Linked DNA regions of Homo sapiens: region 2 is linked to region 1. A link means that fine-mapping ties the variant in region 1 to the expression of a gene that starts in the linked region. Tissue or cell type: cerebellum. Region 1 holds a variant in brackets; the other region holds the start of a gene. All regions are shown on one strand. Distances are from middle to middle.

Region 1 (8,178 bases):
GGGCTGAGCTGCCTGCCTGCTGCTCCTCTCTCCTCATATAGCCCACATGGAGGGGCTGTTATCTGTTTTCTAAGTGTCAGAACAGTCTCAGAGAAGACATAGCCCTGTGGGGTGCCCAGGGTGCAGGGTTCCCTGGAGGAGGGGACTGGGCCCCGTTGGCTCACCAGAGGCAGCTGGGAGAGGGGCTGGAACCAGGGATCTGGCTGACTCCAGGGGGCCCGGGGGATAGGCTGCTCTGGCCAAGAAAAGCCAGTTCCCCAAGTTCTGTTTTAGCCCATGTTCTCAGAGCTCCCACTGTGTGCCAAGCGGTGGCCCCCACCCTGGGAGGTCAGCAGGCCACCGCTGAAGGCACTGGCATGGGGGTGGGTTTCCGCCTGCCAGCACCCTGCTGGAAGCCACCTCCTCCACAGGATAAGCTGCTAGAGAGCCTGAACTGCAAGGTGCTGGATGTGTACCGGCACTGCACCGGCACCCAGCAGGAGGCCAACCTGGGCACCGTGCAGATGCTGACCATCATTGAGCACCAGCTGGATGAGCTGCTAGAGAACCTGGAGCACGTGCCCCAGGTCAAGATCGAGCAGGCCGAGAGGGCAAAGGAGAAGGAGCGGCGCATCAGGTGAGCTCTAGGCTCTCCCTGCCAGCTGCTGTGTCCTGGCTGGCCCTGAGGGCAGAGGGCACATACAGGCCCCACCCTCAAAGCACTCCCAGGAGACAGGCCCCTCCTGCTCTGTGCTATGAGAGACAAAAGCCCATGTCTTGGGGGGATCTAGAGGGGCATCACAGTCAAGTGGGGGGTGGTTAGGGAAAGCTTCCTAGAGCAAACGACAGTGACTCGATGTGGCCAGGAGGCTCAGGGAGGGACAGGGTCTAGAAGATAGAAGAGCTGGAGCTTAGTTAGAGTGTGGCTAGCACGGTCAGCCTCAAATACATGGAACAGCAGTGGAGGGCTTTAAGCAGTGGGGCAAACACGGCCAGGTAGGGTGTGGTTAGATTCTTCCCTCTGGGGCTGGACTGGAGGGGCTGGAGGCTGAGGGCAAGGGCAGCTGCCAGCACCCAGGAGAGAAGGCATGGCTACAGCAGTGTTGCTGGAGCGGAAGACAAAGTGCAGAGGCTCAGAGAGCCTTGGGAGTTTCAGCTCAGAGGGGAGTGGAGGGGGGCAGATGGGCAGCAGCTTGCTATCTGTCGGGACACCAGCCTGAACCCAAGGTAGATGGGGGTTGTGGCTTCCCTGGCCTGTGGGCAGCCCGGTTCATCCACCCCGTGCAGGGCTCTGAGACAGCGCAATCTGCAAACATCCATCCGTCCCCCCAAGCACAGGGGCTTCTCCTCTGGGTCCCTGGTACCCTGCTCAGAGTGGGCACTAGACCAGGCTTTGATGACTGAGAGTATATATAGGAAGGAGACAGGACTCTCGCCCCAGGGGGATGCTGGCCTTCATGGTGGCAAGGGAGGCCACAGGTGCACAGATCAGGCCATGGGTGTAGATTCAGAGAAATGTGCCTCTGGGAGGGGTCTGCTGGATGAACCTTAGATTCAGCCCTTGCAGGAGGCCAGAGCCAGGGCCTCGGAGCAGCAGGGCCCTGGTTGTCCTCCTCTGGGCCTAGGCCACCTTGGCCAAAAGCAGCGGTGCTTTGGCTGTGGATAGGTATTGAGAACTTGACCTGGCAAAAGAGGTGAAGAGGAGCTGGGAGTTTTCTTGAGGGAGGACACGGCCTGGCCTGGGGACTCCGTGTGGAGATTACACAACACCTTCCAGGTCCCCCCAGTTTTCAATGTCATTTCTTGCCACCCAGACTTCGAGAAGAGAAGCTCCAGATGCAAAAGATCCTACAGGAGGAGCATCTGCAGCGGGCCCGGGCGCGCGCCCAGGCTGAGATCAAGAAGAAGGTAGGCAGGGTCGCCTTGGGGGGTCTCTGCTGGAGGGGGTCCCAAGACAGCATGGCAGCTGAGGTCCTGCAGCCCAAGCCCCTGATGCTACCACTCTGAAGGCATTCAATGAGGCTCTGAGGGAGACAGGCTGCCTTCGGAGCAAGGCCTCTCCCAGGACCTGCTTCCTGCAGGGGGCTCTTCCCCAGGCTGCCAGCCCATGGCCCATGCCAGGCTGAGCCTGGTTCAGCCATGCCCACCCACCCCAGCCAGGTACACTCTGCTCAGGAGCAGGGTCCCACCACCCTACCCACACTCCGGCCAGACCCCAAGCCCTGCTCACTGCCCGTCACTGGGGTCCCCCTACTGCTGTGTCCCAAGGCCCCCACCCTTCCTGCCTTCTGACCCTGGCAACAGGAAGCAGGTCCCTCTGCCCCCACATCTAATAGGTGGTGCTCCAGAGACCAGGCTTGATAAATGCCAGGCAGACTCACACCCCCAGTTATTTCAGAGTTAACTCCAGCCCTCAGCCTGCAGGGCTGACCAGAGTGGCCTGGAGGTGACTGGAGCTGCTGGGCCTCTCCCTGCACCAGGGGCAGGGGTATATGGGCATACGGCTCACTAGGCAGCAAGGCTCACTGGGCTTGTTTCCCCTGCAGAGAGGCAGGACACTGGTATGCCGCTCACGACCCCCAGCCCACAGGATCAAACAACAGTCTGAGCACACACTGATGGACAAGGAGGAGGAGGAGCTGCTATTTTTCTTTACTTAATCTTCGCAGACCATAGCTGTTCTGGCTGAAGGCTTAGCAAAGATGTTGGCAGAGGAAGCAGAGACTGGGCTGGGTCTCGAGTGGCCCAACTGAGTCCTCTCTGTCTCCTGTGTGCTCCCTTCCTCACCTGAATAAATTCATGTCTCTCTGGAGTCTTGAAGGCCTGCTTAAGGATGCAGCCACCATTGCCAAATCTCAGCACCCCGCCGGTTCATCATTTAACCCTAAGCAGATGCTTGAGGGCAAGAGCATGACACCTTGGTTCCCATCTAAAACAGCTGCTCTGCGAGACAAAAGCTAATTCCACGCTGAGTGTAGTGTGAGATCAGCCTCTGTGCAAAGACCAAAGAAATACAAGCAGGCAGCTAGGTATATGGCAGGGCCAGCACTACCAACTAAAGGAGAAACAATGGGCTGAATGCCATATATGTAGCTACTTGAATTAAGCCAAGGTGAAAAACCTTCGGTGCATGACTATAAGAAAACTTTCATTCATTTGCACTAGGAGTTAGGCCCATCACCGGCAGGGAACCTTGGTGCCCAGAACACTGGGTGCCAGTCCCAGTCACTTCACGGTGACGTTCCCAGGGAGGCACATGGGAGAAAAATAGAGGCCGAGAGGGCATTCCTGGGGGAAGACTCTCCTCCC[C/CG]ATGGAGATGGGGTGGGTGCGGCTCCACCCGCCATGGTGGCCAAAAGCCTCCCATGGAGGGAGGAGGACTCCGGGCCACCTTGGGGCTAAAGAGCCTGCCAGGTGGGCAAGTTCTCCCCTCGCCTTTAGTTGGTGACAGAGCGCCGGTCTGTGGAGAAGACCCATTTGTCGACGAGGTGTGGATTCTTCCACGTGGAACAGCACCTGGGGACAGCACCTCAGAGTGAGACAAGACAGAGGGAGGACTCACTCAAACTTGATGTCACCCCCAAATTCAAGAAACAAACACAGGGCAGAGTTTGAATGATTCAGTCTGAGAATCAAAACAGCCTCTGAATGAACACATACTTCAAAAGGCACAAGGCAAAAAAAAAAAAAAAAGTCATTTAGGAGTGACCCTGTGTCATTGCTAAGTTGACAGACTTACAAATAAACATGGGCAAGGTGATCACCTTGTCTCCTTTTACAAGACAGACCTCACTCGGTAAAAATATACACTGACGTATTATGTGCACATCAACCTCAATAATAAAACATACACGCGCCATCACAGTCCTACACATAATTTATGGTATTCAGAACATCACTTTATAAACTGTTGCCAAATTACCACTTAAACACTAATATCCAAATACAGAATTTAGAAAATTATTTTAAATTTTAACTCTACCATCCCCCCGAGCTCTCGGCTATGAATTTAGTCTGGGAAGAGGGCTCCGTAATAGGCCACTGAGGTCCTCTGTCCCACCACATCATCCTCCCCCGAAAACTAGCTGCCCGACTGCTCTACCAGACTTGGGCTAGAATTTGGCTTCACGGTGGCAATGGGACCACCTGGGCCCTACAGTGTGGCAAAATCAACTTGCCCACAAACCCCATCCCAGGTGCTGGGATGCTAACACACTGAAGCTGAAAGACCACACTTGGTTTTGCCACAGATCAAGCTGCATCTGACTAGACAGCCTGTTCTCTACCCTATTTCCTGCAGAAGTCTTTTTCTTTGTAATGCAACAAGTGCTACACAGCTCAGATCCAACGGGACACGGGGAAAGAGGCTGTAGTGCACCTAGCCCTGCTGAGGGAGACCCTTGCCTTGCCAAAGCACTTTGCTCACAAAGGCAGTTTCAAAGAGTATAGCCCGAACTCATTCCTGGTAAAACAAAAGGAAAACATTTTTGATAAATGTACCCAAAAGTCTCAAAAGGGCTACGCTGGTCTTCTGAACGGAAACCAAATGAGGTCTCCCCAGGCTCATGTCATGAGTCTCAGGGAAGGTGTGTCCTAGACCGTGGCCTTGGGCCTGCCCAGGCCGAGGCTGCCGTCACTGCAGATCCTGCAGGTTGATAGTGCTTCCTGGGAACTGGGTGGCCTCCGGTCCAGCAGGGCCTCCAGATGAGGGGAGCACCTCCTGCAAAACCAAGCATTGTCATGAAGAGGGAGGAGGGAGGGGAGGCAGAGGGATCCTGTGGCTCCACACAGCAGGACACTGACCAGGCCCGTGGTGAGATACCTGACTTCTCTTACTCAAAACTACAGGCTCCCCTTATTCTAAACACATGTTCTTTGATGAAAAATGAACTCAATACTGTACTGTAAATTTTTCAAGATTGTTCTGTCTGCACATTGACGTATACCCTCACATGTTCATATACCCATATGCCTTTTTACAGAAACAAAATCATCTTTACTTCTGCAACCCTTTCTCCGCACTTCTCACGCGGTGAGCACTCTCCCAGGTATTAGGTGTCCGTCCGCCTGTGCCCTCACAGCTGACCAGGATGTGGCCCAGGGCTATGGAGGCCCCATCTAGCCTGTCTCCTCCTGCTACAAGAAGTGTTCCTGCTGTTGCACCATTTGACTCCGGGCTACGGTGATTATGTCACTACCTTATTTTTTCAGGAGCAGTCCCAGGAGGGGGCTGCCAGGCAGGATGGAGCAGACACTTCTGAAGTTCTCTGATCCATGCTGCCAAACCGCCCTCCAGCTCACCCCTCTGCAGCCTGGGTGCCCGGCCCTCTGCTCCCACCAGTGCTTCTGTCCAAGTTTGGTTTTGATTGCGAGGGAAATGCTGAATAGCCCAATTTGAATGCAAAAAAACTAAAACACAATTTGCATGGCTTATTGTAAATATATAAACACGTAAGGCAAACTGTTAGAAATGTGATAAGCTATACGCTTTCGCTATTTCATATCAAACTCTGAATCATTCACTGCCACCCATCCTTAGCTTAACCACGTAAGCAAACTACTGAATTCATCCGAGTCTATTCTCCCACAGGCTGGGCCCTGGCCAGCCCTCTTCCCAGAGAATTAACTGGAATTCCTAGGCACAACACTTTCAAGAGCATATTAACTTCTCCTGCTTTGTCTACCAGCAGGAGCTGCAGCGTCCTGCAGATCTGAGCTCCACTCACCCACCTTCTCCAGAAGGCAGCAAGACATCCTGGCAACCAACCCACTGAGCCTCCCAAGCCACGCGGCCTCAGTGACCAGCCTGCAGCTGTGAAGCCAGGCTTCTGGAAGTCGAAGGCTCTGCGAGTCTCAATAAGAAAAACAAAGGGCAGTAAGGCATCCAGACCTGGAGGACGTAGACGGGCAGGTCCACAGTGAGGAAGGGGAGGAAGGTGGCTGGGCCGCGGGCCGAGGGCAGGACACCTTCGCCGGAGGGGTCATCCTGGGAAGGCAACACAGAAAGGCCTGTCACATGTCTGTGAGAGTGCAGCAAAGGTCCTCGTCTCACCTGAGAAGTCTCCTCCAGCTGCAATGCGTGGCAGAACCAGCCCACCCCCTGTATTCCAAGGGAGGCCCGAGGACCCAGCAGGAATTGTTTATGGGGGCTGGGTACTACCTGTTCCCACCTGGTTCTCATTCTGTCACCTTGATCCCAGCAGCTTTTGCTGGGCCTGGAACCTTCTGCTCTCCAGCTCCTCCCCTCAGTCAGCCCAAATACTGATTTCCCTCCTAAGGCACGCTCCTCAACTCCTTGCAGGTGCCCTGGCACGCCCTGTACCCCCACCAACCTTGTGTACCCAGAGTGCTCTCCAGCAAATCCTCGGGCCCCACAGAGGGCCTTCCCTGCATGCCCCAGCTTGCCTACGGGCCAGCTGGAAGGACCAGGGCAGGTAGAGGGGCTCCTGAGAGGGGAGGCTGCCAGGCCCCTCACAGTCCAGGCTAGAAACTTCATCTGTCCCACACTTCGCCTGTCCTGCACCTGCATGTCCGCCCATGGCCATTCACACCCCGAAGCGGAGCTCCTGGTGCTGCTGCTCTGCACCTCTCATTCCTTCTGTTTGAGAAGCTCCTGTGTGTCAAGGTCTGCACTACTGTTCCCATTTCATAGATGACAAAACTGAGGCCCGGAGTGCTTAAGTAACCAAGACTACGCTAGCTGGTAAGGGACAGAAAAAGAACTCAAACCCAGGTTTAATCAGGCATCTCTTAAAAGTATACCCCCTACTTGCTCCTGTTCTGCCGGTGGCACCAGCTTCCCTACCGTCTCCCTATTGCCAAGCCTCTGGTCCTGACTCTGTACCTCTGCCCTGCCAGCTGAGGCAGTGTTTCCTTGGATGGTCCTCCCCCTCCCCCTGCCCCTGCTCCTGGGGAGTTCTTACCTCTTCAGAAGCTGGAAACAAAGGACCAGTGCTCCTGCCCCTCTCTAAGACAAGCTTCAGCCCCCATCTGACGCTCACCGCTAGCTTCCAACCAGCACAGGGCCACCCCCAGCTGCCCGCAGCCTCTTCCCTGCCCCCTTCCCAGCCCACCTCTGCCCAGGCTGCCCCTCCTCTTGCCTCTCTGAGCCCCAGGCCTGGTCCTGTTTCCTTGGCGAGACTCTCCCAGGACTCTGAACCCACAAACGTGCCTGTTTCCCAACTCAGAGCCAGCGTCACCTCCACCCTCCGCACTTCCGTGGGGCCTGCAACCGCATCCCCTGCCACAGGGAATCTACAAAGTGGAGTGGTGAAGAGGGGCACACACCTGGGCCAAACCCAGACAGCCCCGGCTTGTATATCTCTTCTCTCCCCAAATCCTTCCAAATCATCTTCCCTCCCCATTCCAGCCCCTCAAACTGAGACTGAAGATGCAGGTGTGCTCAGGGCTGCTGAAGCAGGTGTGCTCAAAGACCTCCTGGAAACTGGCCACAGCTGCAGGTATCTGTGGCCCGGACAGGCTGGGAGGGGCCTGGGCCTGCCCTGGAGGGGCTCTGTTTCGTAGGAAAGAAAATAGAAAAACACTGAAAAGACCCCCACCACCTTCAGCATAGAAAGGCTGCTAGTGCGCCACAAGCAGGCCGCCCTAGAAATGGGGTGGCTGAGACGGCCTGCGGAGCCCTTTTGCCCCAGCCCTGCAGAAGAAGGGCAGGGTGGCCTCAAACAGATCTCATCCTGCTGCAAAACAGCCCTGGGGGCCTCGGGCAGGGAGGCGGGCTACTCTGGGGCTAGACGCAGGGCTGTGCACAGACAGGTTCAGGAAGTGGATGCACGGTCCCAGCAACACTCAGAGCTTGAGCAGATGCAGGACAGGCTGGGAAAAAGGGAGGAGCTGGGCTGTGAGGAGACAGGACTTGGGGCAGTCTACAGGGGAGGATGCACGAGGGGCAGGCAGGCAGGGGGTGCTGCGATGGGCAGGGGATGCAGCATGCCGCACACTGCTCAGACCTGCGTGACCCTCCCACCCCGCCTACAGCTGGCCTGTGTGACTGGCCAGCTCTCACCTGCACCAGCTGGACCTGGACGCCCTGCGCCCCGCACTGCACCCCAGCTGCTGGAGCTGGTCCTGGCCGTCCTCCGCTGGGCACCACGAGGCTCCCACACAACCAACTGTTCTGGCTTGCATGGAAATGGGGAGGACTCATTTTGCCTTCTTTTATTTTTCTCTGAGTAGACTGTGAGG
Region 2 (8,172 bases), 42 kb before region 1:
CACTTGGCAATGTGGACCCCTTTCTTCTTCTCCTTTTGAAAATATTTATTGAGATATAATTTACATATCTAAACTTCACCCACTTAAAGTGCATTTTACTATATTCAGAGTAAATCTAATGTTCACCATAGTCTAATTTTAGAACACTTTCATCACCCTAAAGAGCAAAATCCCATCTCCATTAGCCACCACTGCCCATTTGCCTGTTTCCCCAATTCCATCTAGGCGCCTTCATAGGATATGTGGTCTCTTGTGACCACATATGAGCCCAGTCTTACTCTGGGCTCCAAGACCTTCTTTTTTATTCCACTAGCACTGTTTCTCTGACACTGTGGTCAAATGTGATATGCCTGGGATGTGGATGCCAAAAGTCATCCCTGTTTTTTCCTAGACTCCAATCAAATTATCCATCCATCTGAGCTGGCAGGAAAGCAATCTGATTAATGTGATTGCTCACAAAATATAAAAAGCATGCCAGGCTAGAGCACCTGGCAGGCACTGGTTGGGGACACGTTCCCAGAGAGGGAGGGGGGATGGGGCTTCAGACACTCTTTAAGGACTTTGCAGCTTTCCCCTGAAACATGGTCCTGCAGGCCACAACCCATGCAGGGGCTCCTAGGTCAGTGTAAGTAGTGCAAAGAGCTCATATCACTGCCCTCCCTGTGGAAAGCCCTTGACTCACCGTGAAGCACGGTAGACATGGCTGTCATTCTCCATAACCTACCACCTCTCAGCAAAAGGAAAACCCCCATGTGAGAGATCTGGGCATCTAAGGCATTTTACCTTGAAGGTGACTCTCCAATCCAGCCTGGCCTGCTGTGCTGTAGAACAACGGTGAGACCAGGTGCTGCAGGAAAGAAATACAAGCTGCTCTCTCAGGCTTTGTCGTTCTGGTAGACCTCTGAATACCCTGTCTGGGTACAGGACTACTCCTGACCCCCCTGGTTTCTGAGTCCCTCCTCCCACGGCAGAAGCCAAAGATCTTGTGTGGAAGGCGGGAGGTGCAGGCAGGCGATCCAGGTGCTGCCTACCGGTCAGGAGTGCATAGCAGACTTCGGATCACAGCATGTTCTCTGCCAGAACGCGCCTGCGATGGCTTTGGGCTCCGCTCCAGGCTACAGCATCTCCCAGCTTGATTCCCTATCGTCCTACAGAGTCTGGGGGCACCCCCATGTCCTTTTCTCCCCCAAGTGGCTATAGTTGCTTTCTGTTGTTTATTCCCGAGAGCCCAGACTGATATACCTTCTTTGAGGAGGAAAATACGAAATCTGAAATACGAATTTCTCCTTTAAGAAGATTGTTAGCTTTTCCCAAAATGTTTGATTATGAACATTTTCAAGCTTCAAACATACAGAAATGTTGGAAGGATTTTGAAGCAGACATCCACATGCCCACTGCCTGGGCTGGACAGCTCACAGGCCACTACGATTCACCACACAGCCAGCCAGCCACCATTGCTCCACCAATCATGCATCTGATTTTAAAAATTAGCTTTTAATCAGCAAATGGTATTTCTAGTTAGACCTGTTAGGCTAAGACTAAAAGTTCCAAATCAGGTCACGTTTTCTAGGTGGTTTTCTTTCTAACCTTGTAAGCTACCAAGAGCAAAAACAAAGGCCAGAACACACAAACTGACAGATAACTTGCCTTTATTATGAAGTACACCTTTGGACTTGTGGGGTTTTTTTCCCAAAGCTTGTGCATCATTGTCTGGGATAACTGCATAAAATGGAAGGACGATTCCTGGTGAGAGGCAGTGTGTTCTAGGTAAGAGCAAAGCTGGAATCCGCTGTCTCACTGTGTCCCTGCTCTGTCCACACCGGCAACTCATGCAAAGGCAGGGTGATCATGCAGGTGAAATGGGTGGATTGGTGTCAAGTGCGTGGAACAGTACCTGGCACATAGAAAACACTCTGTAAGGTTCATGGGGAGATTCACGACTGTTCATAAACTGATCTGTTGATGACAATGAATGGGCAGGAGCCTGGGTACCTTTGTTCTCTTTGGGTCACTTATGTTCTAGCTTCCTAAAAGTCTCATTAGAGCACCTTGTATTTAGATAAACCATTACAAAAACACTTACTTTTCTACTTGAGTCACCAGTTTATGAAGTGCTTCTTGTGGTTTGCTAAAACCTAAATCGGAGGGACAGGTTTTTGTTCTGCTTTGATGGTTTGTAGGGAGATAAGGCTGCAGAGGTAGGCTGGGGCCGGGTCATTGAGGACTTTGAATGTCAGTGTAAGGAGCCTCTCTCCTAAGGGTAAAGGGACAACTTGTCTTTCAGCACATTTGACAATAGCAGCTGTAACGAACACACACGTGCACACATGCACACACACACACTACATGTGCACACATGTGCACATGCACACATGCACAAATCACATATGTGGCTTAACACAATACAACATTCTTCCTCCCTTGTGCAAAGCCCACTGTGGATATTGCAAGTTGGGACACTATTCTACCAGCGAAGATTCAGGGATCCCTGCTCCTTCCATCTTGGGAGCTCCTCCTCACTCCCACCCCCAGCTCCAATGGAGTTCCTGTTGTGGATGTGGTCTTCCCACCCACTACACCGGCCTTAGGCAGAGCCTGGCACAGCTGGGATCCTCACTGGGACTACATTGCTGGGCTGCAGACTGCTCCAGAGTCCCCCCAGAAGCCCCTAAATGTCCCTGAAAAGATGAGTCACTGACTGTGCTTTCAGCTCCAAGCAGCCTTTATCAATCTCTCAATCCCCATAGATACTGGGAAAATCTAGGAACATGTTCAGAACTCAAAGAGGGGTCTTCTGCTGCTGCTTTTTGTGGGGAGACAGGATCCCTGAGCTGGGGGACCAGACATCCTGGTGCCCCTGGCTTCAAGCAGCTGGTGGATCTGCGCGCTCAAAACTTGCCCTGGTCTGTATGGCCTCATCCTCTCGCTTGTCCCACTATGATGGATCTCGCTCGCTCCGTAGAGCAGTGGCTTTGCAACCCTAGCCAGCACTGGGGTCGCGCGTGGACTTGTCAGGACACACATTGCTGGGCTCCACCCCGAGTTTCTGATTCTGGGGCGAGGATTGAAAACTTGCTTTTCTAACGAGTTCCCAGCATTTTCGATGCTGCTAGTCCTGAGACCATACTTTGAAAACCGCCCCTCTAGAAAGTGCGATCCCTCCCCAGGAAAGAAGCAGGGCTATTTTTGCTCCAAAAGTATCCATCCTGCACGCCCTCTTCAGTGCTTGGCACGTGGCGAATAAACCAATCAGGATGAAAGGAGCCAACCCAAGTGCGGAGTGTTGAACCTCAGAGGAAGAAACCCGCGTTCACCAGGCCCAGGCCTGGGCCAGGCGCTGTCCTGGCGGCGTCAGGGAGGACATCGTGCCCAGAGCTCGGACCCAGCAGCCCGGCCCCGCGCCCTCCCTGTCCCGCGGCCCGCAGGCCCAGCCCTCAAGCGCCCAGCCTCCGCGGCCTTTGTGGCGTCACAGCCAGCCTGAAGAATGGTTGCCTTGGAGACGTAAACCCAAGAGCCCTGCTCCTGGAGCTGAGAACTGCAGCGCGGAGGCTTCGGAGCGAGCCGGGGCAGTCGGGGTCGGTGGGTGCGCTCGCGGTCCGGGGAGAGGGGGCGCGCGGGGTCCGTGAGGGCGCGTGGGGGCGGCGGCAGGGGTGCGAAACCAGGGCCCGAGGGGCGCGCGTGGCCGGGAGCGGACTTGCAAGGCGCCTTCCAAGGCTGCCCGCTCGCATGCCACTTGCTTGAAACACACCCATCTACCATCCACCCCATCTGTCCTACCATCCCTGTGCACCTCGCTGTGTGGCTCGGGGCCTTGCAGAGCGCGGGTGTTAGGAGGCGACCCTGCGAACCCCAGGCTCACCCAATAGGGGGCTGCAGCAGGAATGCGGCAGGAATGGCACAAGCTTAGAGTGGGGGCCCTTTCCAGAGGCAGCCCCTCCTGACTGTGACTTTGGACACCTCGCTGAATCTCTGCTTCCTCCCCTGCAAAAATGAAAATTCATTCAATGGATGAAGTTAAGAAGTGCCAAGGGTATGTCAGGAGCTTGGATGAGCAGAAAAGACCCCCCTGTTCTCATGGAGCTCACATTTTAGGGGGAAATAGACAACGAATGGATTTTTAAAGTGATAATCAGATAGTGGGAATTGCAGAGAAGAAAATAAAGGCCACATGGGGGTGGGGAGGAAGAAACCACTTTGGATGGGATGGTGAGAGGTCTCTCTAAAGAGGTGACATTTGAGCTCGGAATTGAAGAGAAGGAAGCCCAGCACCCCCAGCTGGGTATGGGAGAATATTTTTTGGCCGAGGAGGCCGAAAATGCAAAGGCTTGAGGCCAAGATTGATGTGTTCTAAGCACAGAAAAAGTAGGCAGCTAGAGCCAAGTCCAGGAGGTGAGAGTGGACCCTCGGGTGGGAGAGGCAGGGAGCCGGCAGGTGTCCCCACAAGGTGAGCCCTCAGCAAATGTCGGTGGCTGTCAGCCACCCAGGGGGAAGGAAGCTCTGGGCTTGGGGACCACCAGGCTCAAGCACTGTGTCACTCCTCAGGTGAGGATCTCCTTTAGAAGAGGAGAAGCCTTGCATCAACCTCTTGGGCCTCAGCCAAGATGTCTGAGATACCGTCCACTATAGTCTCCAAGAACATGACCAATGACAGTAAGTACCGGGCCAGGGTGGGCACTCTCAGAGGTCAGGGGCAGCTTCGGAGCCTGTCCAGCTCCCTCACAGGTTAAGGTAGCTCTAAACCAAACACTAGGCAGGAGTCATAGATCTGCCTACTTCCCTTGAAACAAGGCATATGGATTGCCTGCAGCTGCTGTAACAAAGCACCACCACAAACTGGGGGGCTGGAGTCACAGACATTTGTTTTCTCAAGCTCTGGGGGCTGGATGTCTGAGATCAAGTTGTCCAAAAGGCTAGGTCCCTCCAAGGGCTCTGAGCGAGAACCCATTCCGGGCCTCTCTCCTGGTTTCCAGAGCTTTGCAGGCAATCCTTGGTGCTCTTTGGCTTGTAGAAGCATCACTCCCATCTCAGCCTTCCTGCCCATGTGGAATTCTGCCTGTGTGTGTCTGTGTCCAAATTTCCCCATTTTACAGGGACCCCATCACATTGGATTGGAGGCCTACCCCGCTCCAGAATGGCCTCAGCTTAGTGAATTACAGCTGCAAAGACCTTATTTCCAAACAAGATCACATTCTGAGACAGTAGGGGTTGGGACTTCAACATACGAATTGGGATGACACAGTTCAACCCACAACAGACCATGAGGAAGGTGTCACCGTGAAGGTGAGCTTCTCTCAGCACCCCTCTGACCACAAATGCCAGGCTGGGCTCCAAGGAGGTGGTCAGCTGGCGCTAGGCCCTGGATGAAACATGCCTGCCCTAGTGGAATTGCATGCATTTGCCAAGATCTCACACAGGGCGACGCTGAGGGAGGCTGCCCAGGCCTACCTGGGGCCCTTCAGCTTTTTTATTGGAATTTAATTTGGTTTTGACCAGGCATAGTATTCCATGGTTCAAAATTCAAAAGTGTGTTAAAAGCCCCTCATTGTGAAAAGCCTCTCCCACCCTGTCAAAGGCATACAGTGCCCCTTCCTTAGAGATGGCCACTGTCCCCTGTCTCTTCTAGGCTACCAGCTCAGTGCACATACAGGCAAATGTGTGTAGATGAGGTTTGTTCTTTTCTTACACGGAGATCACACAATGAAAACCCTGTCTGCACCTTGATTTTTTTAATTAACCCATACATTGTAGAGACTGTTCCTTATCAATACATCAAGAATTCCCTTATACTTTTTGTGCTTTTGAGTAGAATAGTAATCTTTCAGTATGGCTGTATCATAATTTATTAACCAATTCTCTGTTCATATGGGTGATTAGCTTGTTTCAGAAAGTGTGCTGCTATAAACAGTGACCCCCACCATTACACTTAGGTGTGCACACGCTCTCTCGTTCTTTTTTTGCTCCAGAGTAAATTTTAAAATGAAGAAGGGCTGGAATAAGGTTTAAAAACAAAGATGGCTTTGAAATGTTTATAGATAACAAATTAACTCTCAATGTGCCCATAAAACAATGCAGATAATTATGCTACCACAAGACAGTTGAAGGACATGTAAACTATATTGATTTGTTTATTGGTATGAGGGGGAGTGCCTAGTTGGGGTACCCTATGACCCTGTGGCATTGGTAATTCCTCGAGATTGATTGAGGGCCTGTGCATTTGTGAGAAAACCAGGCCAGACAGGCAGAGCCAGGATTGGCACCCAGGGCCAGGGGTCTCAGAGTCAGGTGGGTCAGGGAGGTTGGCATGGGCAAGGTGGGCAGGGGACCTGGCCAGGGGCTTCAGTCAAGAGGACTGCTGAGCTCTGTGTCCTGGGGTCAGCTGCAGGAGCTGGGACAAAGGTAGGGGCCAAAATGACACTGAGCCACCTGGAGTGAGAGGTTTGGGGATGCTGAGCCAAGTACAGATAGGACCCCCCCTCAACCAGAGGGCCCAGGGCAGGGGCCTGGAGGCCAAGTAGGGAAAGGGCATTCTAGGCGGCTGGCCAGGCCCAAAGGCCCTGAGGTGGGAGTGGGCGTGGTGTGTTCAAGGGAGAGACAGGAGGCCAGCATGGGCCAACTGGGTAGGGCCTGTGGCCCGGGAGGACTATTGGCCTCTGCCCAGATGACGGGAAGGATTTAAGAGGGAGACTGCTCAGTGTCTAGCTTTATGACTTTTGTGATGAGAACGCTGTTCCCTAAGCCTTGGCAGAGGGGCTGGTTTGGCCACAGCCTCCTTTGAGGCATCAGGGCGGGCAGGGGTGGGGGCTGCAGGAATGCCCGGAGCTCTGGCCCTGCACCCTCAGCACCCAGCCCAGTGCGGGGCCAGTTCCAGGAGAGGCACTGGGGTCGCGCGTGGACTTGTCAGGAGAGGGCCTGCGGCTGGTCCCTCTGGGCCAGAACCCTGCCTGAGCCTCACTGTGGGTGTGGAGAGTTTGTTCCTTGAGCGGCCAAATATATTTCCCAAGACACCAGGCTCCAGGTACAAGACTCCAGAAGGAGCAGGTTGGGAGAGGCTTGCCCCTGCTGAAGGAGCCGTGTGCATGCGCGTCAGGCCAGGATGCCCTGCAGGCTCTCACTGCTGCTTCTCAAGTGCACGTCCCCCACAATGGGAGCATTCAGGAAGGGCATGGGGTCTAGAGAGGTTGTTAAACCACAGATGGCCAGGCCTTCCCCCTGCCAGTTCTGGCTATGAGGGATGCGAAGGGCTGGAGGCAGGAGTTTAATTTGGCAGTGTGGAGAAACATGATCTTCAGTAATCTAACCTTCATCTTGGGACATCCGAAGCCTGGCCTGGTGGCCTCGTGGGCAGAGTGGGCCATCCACACATGCAGCCCACATCAGGCCACTCAGGGACCCACAGTCACTTCACTAATGTTCATGGAGCACCTACCGTGTGTCAGGCACTGTGCTGGGCTGGGGCACAGAGGGCCATGAGACGGAGGCGCCTGCTCTCTGAGCATTTAGTAGAGTGCAGCAAACAGCTCTCAACTTCACCGGCTCCATCCATTCCTGCAGCCCTGGCCAGGCCAGGCCTGGTTCACTCCCACTCAGTGTCTTGGCACTGCTGTGTCCTCCACAGGGAATGCTCTTCTCCCCAGTTTCCCTGGGACTCCCTCCCTCACACCCCACAGGAGCTCATTTAGATGTCAGCTCCACAGGGAGGCCTCCCCTAAACAAGGTAAAACGCGGTGCCCCACCTGCCCTACATCCCTCATTGCTGTTCCCTGTTTCATTTTCTCAGTGGCACGTTCTACCCTCTGGCCTTTTGACCCTTCTTCACCTGTGTTGCTTACTGTCTCACTCCCATCCAGCAGTGACATTTGTTCCCCCAGAGCCTGGAACATCACAGGCCTCAGTCAAAACCTGTTAGCCTGCAAGCTCTCCCTCTAAGATCAAGAGCAAAACAGTGATGCCCACCTTCACCACTGCTGTTCAATATTGCACTAGAAGTTCTAGCCAGAGTCATTAGGCAAGAAAAAGAAAAAAAGAAGTAAAAGACCCAGACTGAAAAGGAGGAAGTAAAACTATTCACAGATGACACAACCCTATATATAGAAAATCTCAAAGAATCCACAAGGAAGTTACTAGAGCAAATGAATGAACTCAGCAAAGTTGTGGGTTACAAGACCAACACAG

Evidence for each region. PIP is the estimated chance that this variant, and not a neighbour inherited with it, causes the effect.
Region 2: CFAP100 starts here. The variant in region 1 is fine-mapped to the expression of CFAP100 in cerebellum (GTEx, PIP above 0.99).

The regions. Positions count from the first base shown.
Region 1 is chr3:126,433,766-126,441,943 of GRCh38, forward strand. CFAP100 (cilia and flagella associated protein 100) reads left to right here. Exons shown (of 17, transcript NM_182628.3): 15 at 411-616; 16 at 1,794-1,887; 17 at 2,526-2,791. The coding sequence ends at 2,639. ZXDC (ZXD family zinc finger C) reads right to left here. Exons shown (of 10, transcript NM_025112.5): 8 at 8,000-8,178; 9 at 5,867-5,962; 10 at 3,836-4,696. The coding sequence ends at 4,610. It overlaps LOC124906280, which reads right to left and starts at 417. Exons shown (of 1, transcript XM_047449418.1): 1 at 1-417. RefSeq lists an enhancer at 7,478-8,113. The variant C/CG (reference allele first, on the strand shown) is at 3,289.
Region 2 is chr3:126,391,400-126,399,571 of GRCh38, forward strand. CFAP100 (cilia and flagella associated protein 100) reads left to right here and starts at 3,510. Exons shown (of 17, transcript NM_182628.3): 1 at 3,510-3,579; 2 at 4,543-4,650. The coding sequence starts at 4,602. CFAP100-DT (CFAP100 divergent transcript) reads right to left here and starts at 3,399. Exons shown (of 2, transcript NR_103789.1): 1 at 2,900-3,399; 2 at 1,633-1,894. It overlaps LOC107986044 (a long non-coding RNA gene), which reads right to left and starts at 849. Exons shown (of 3, transcript XR_001740563.1): 1 at 784-849. RefSeq lists an enhancer at 6,406-6,915.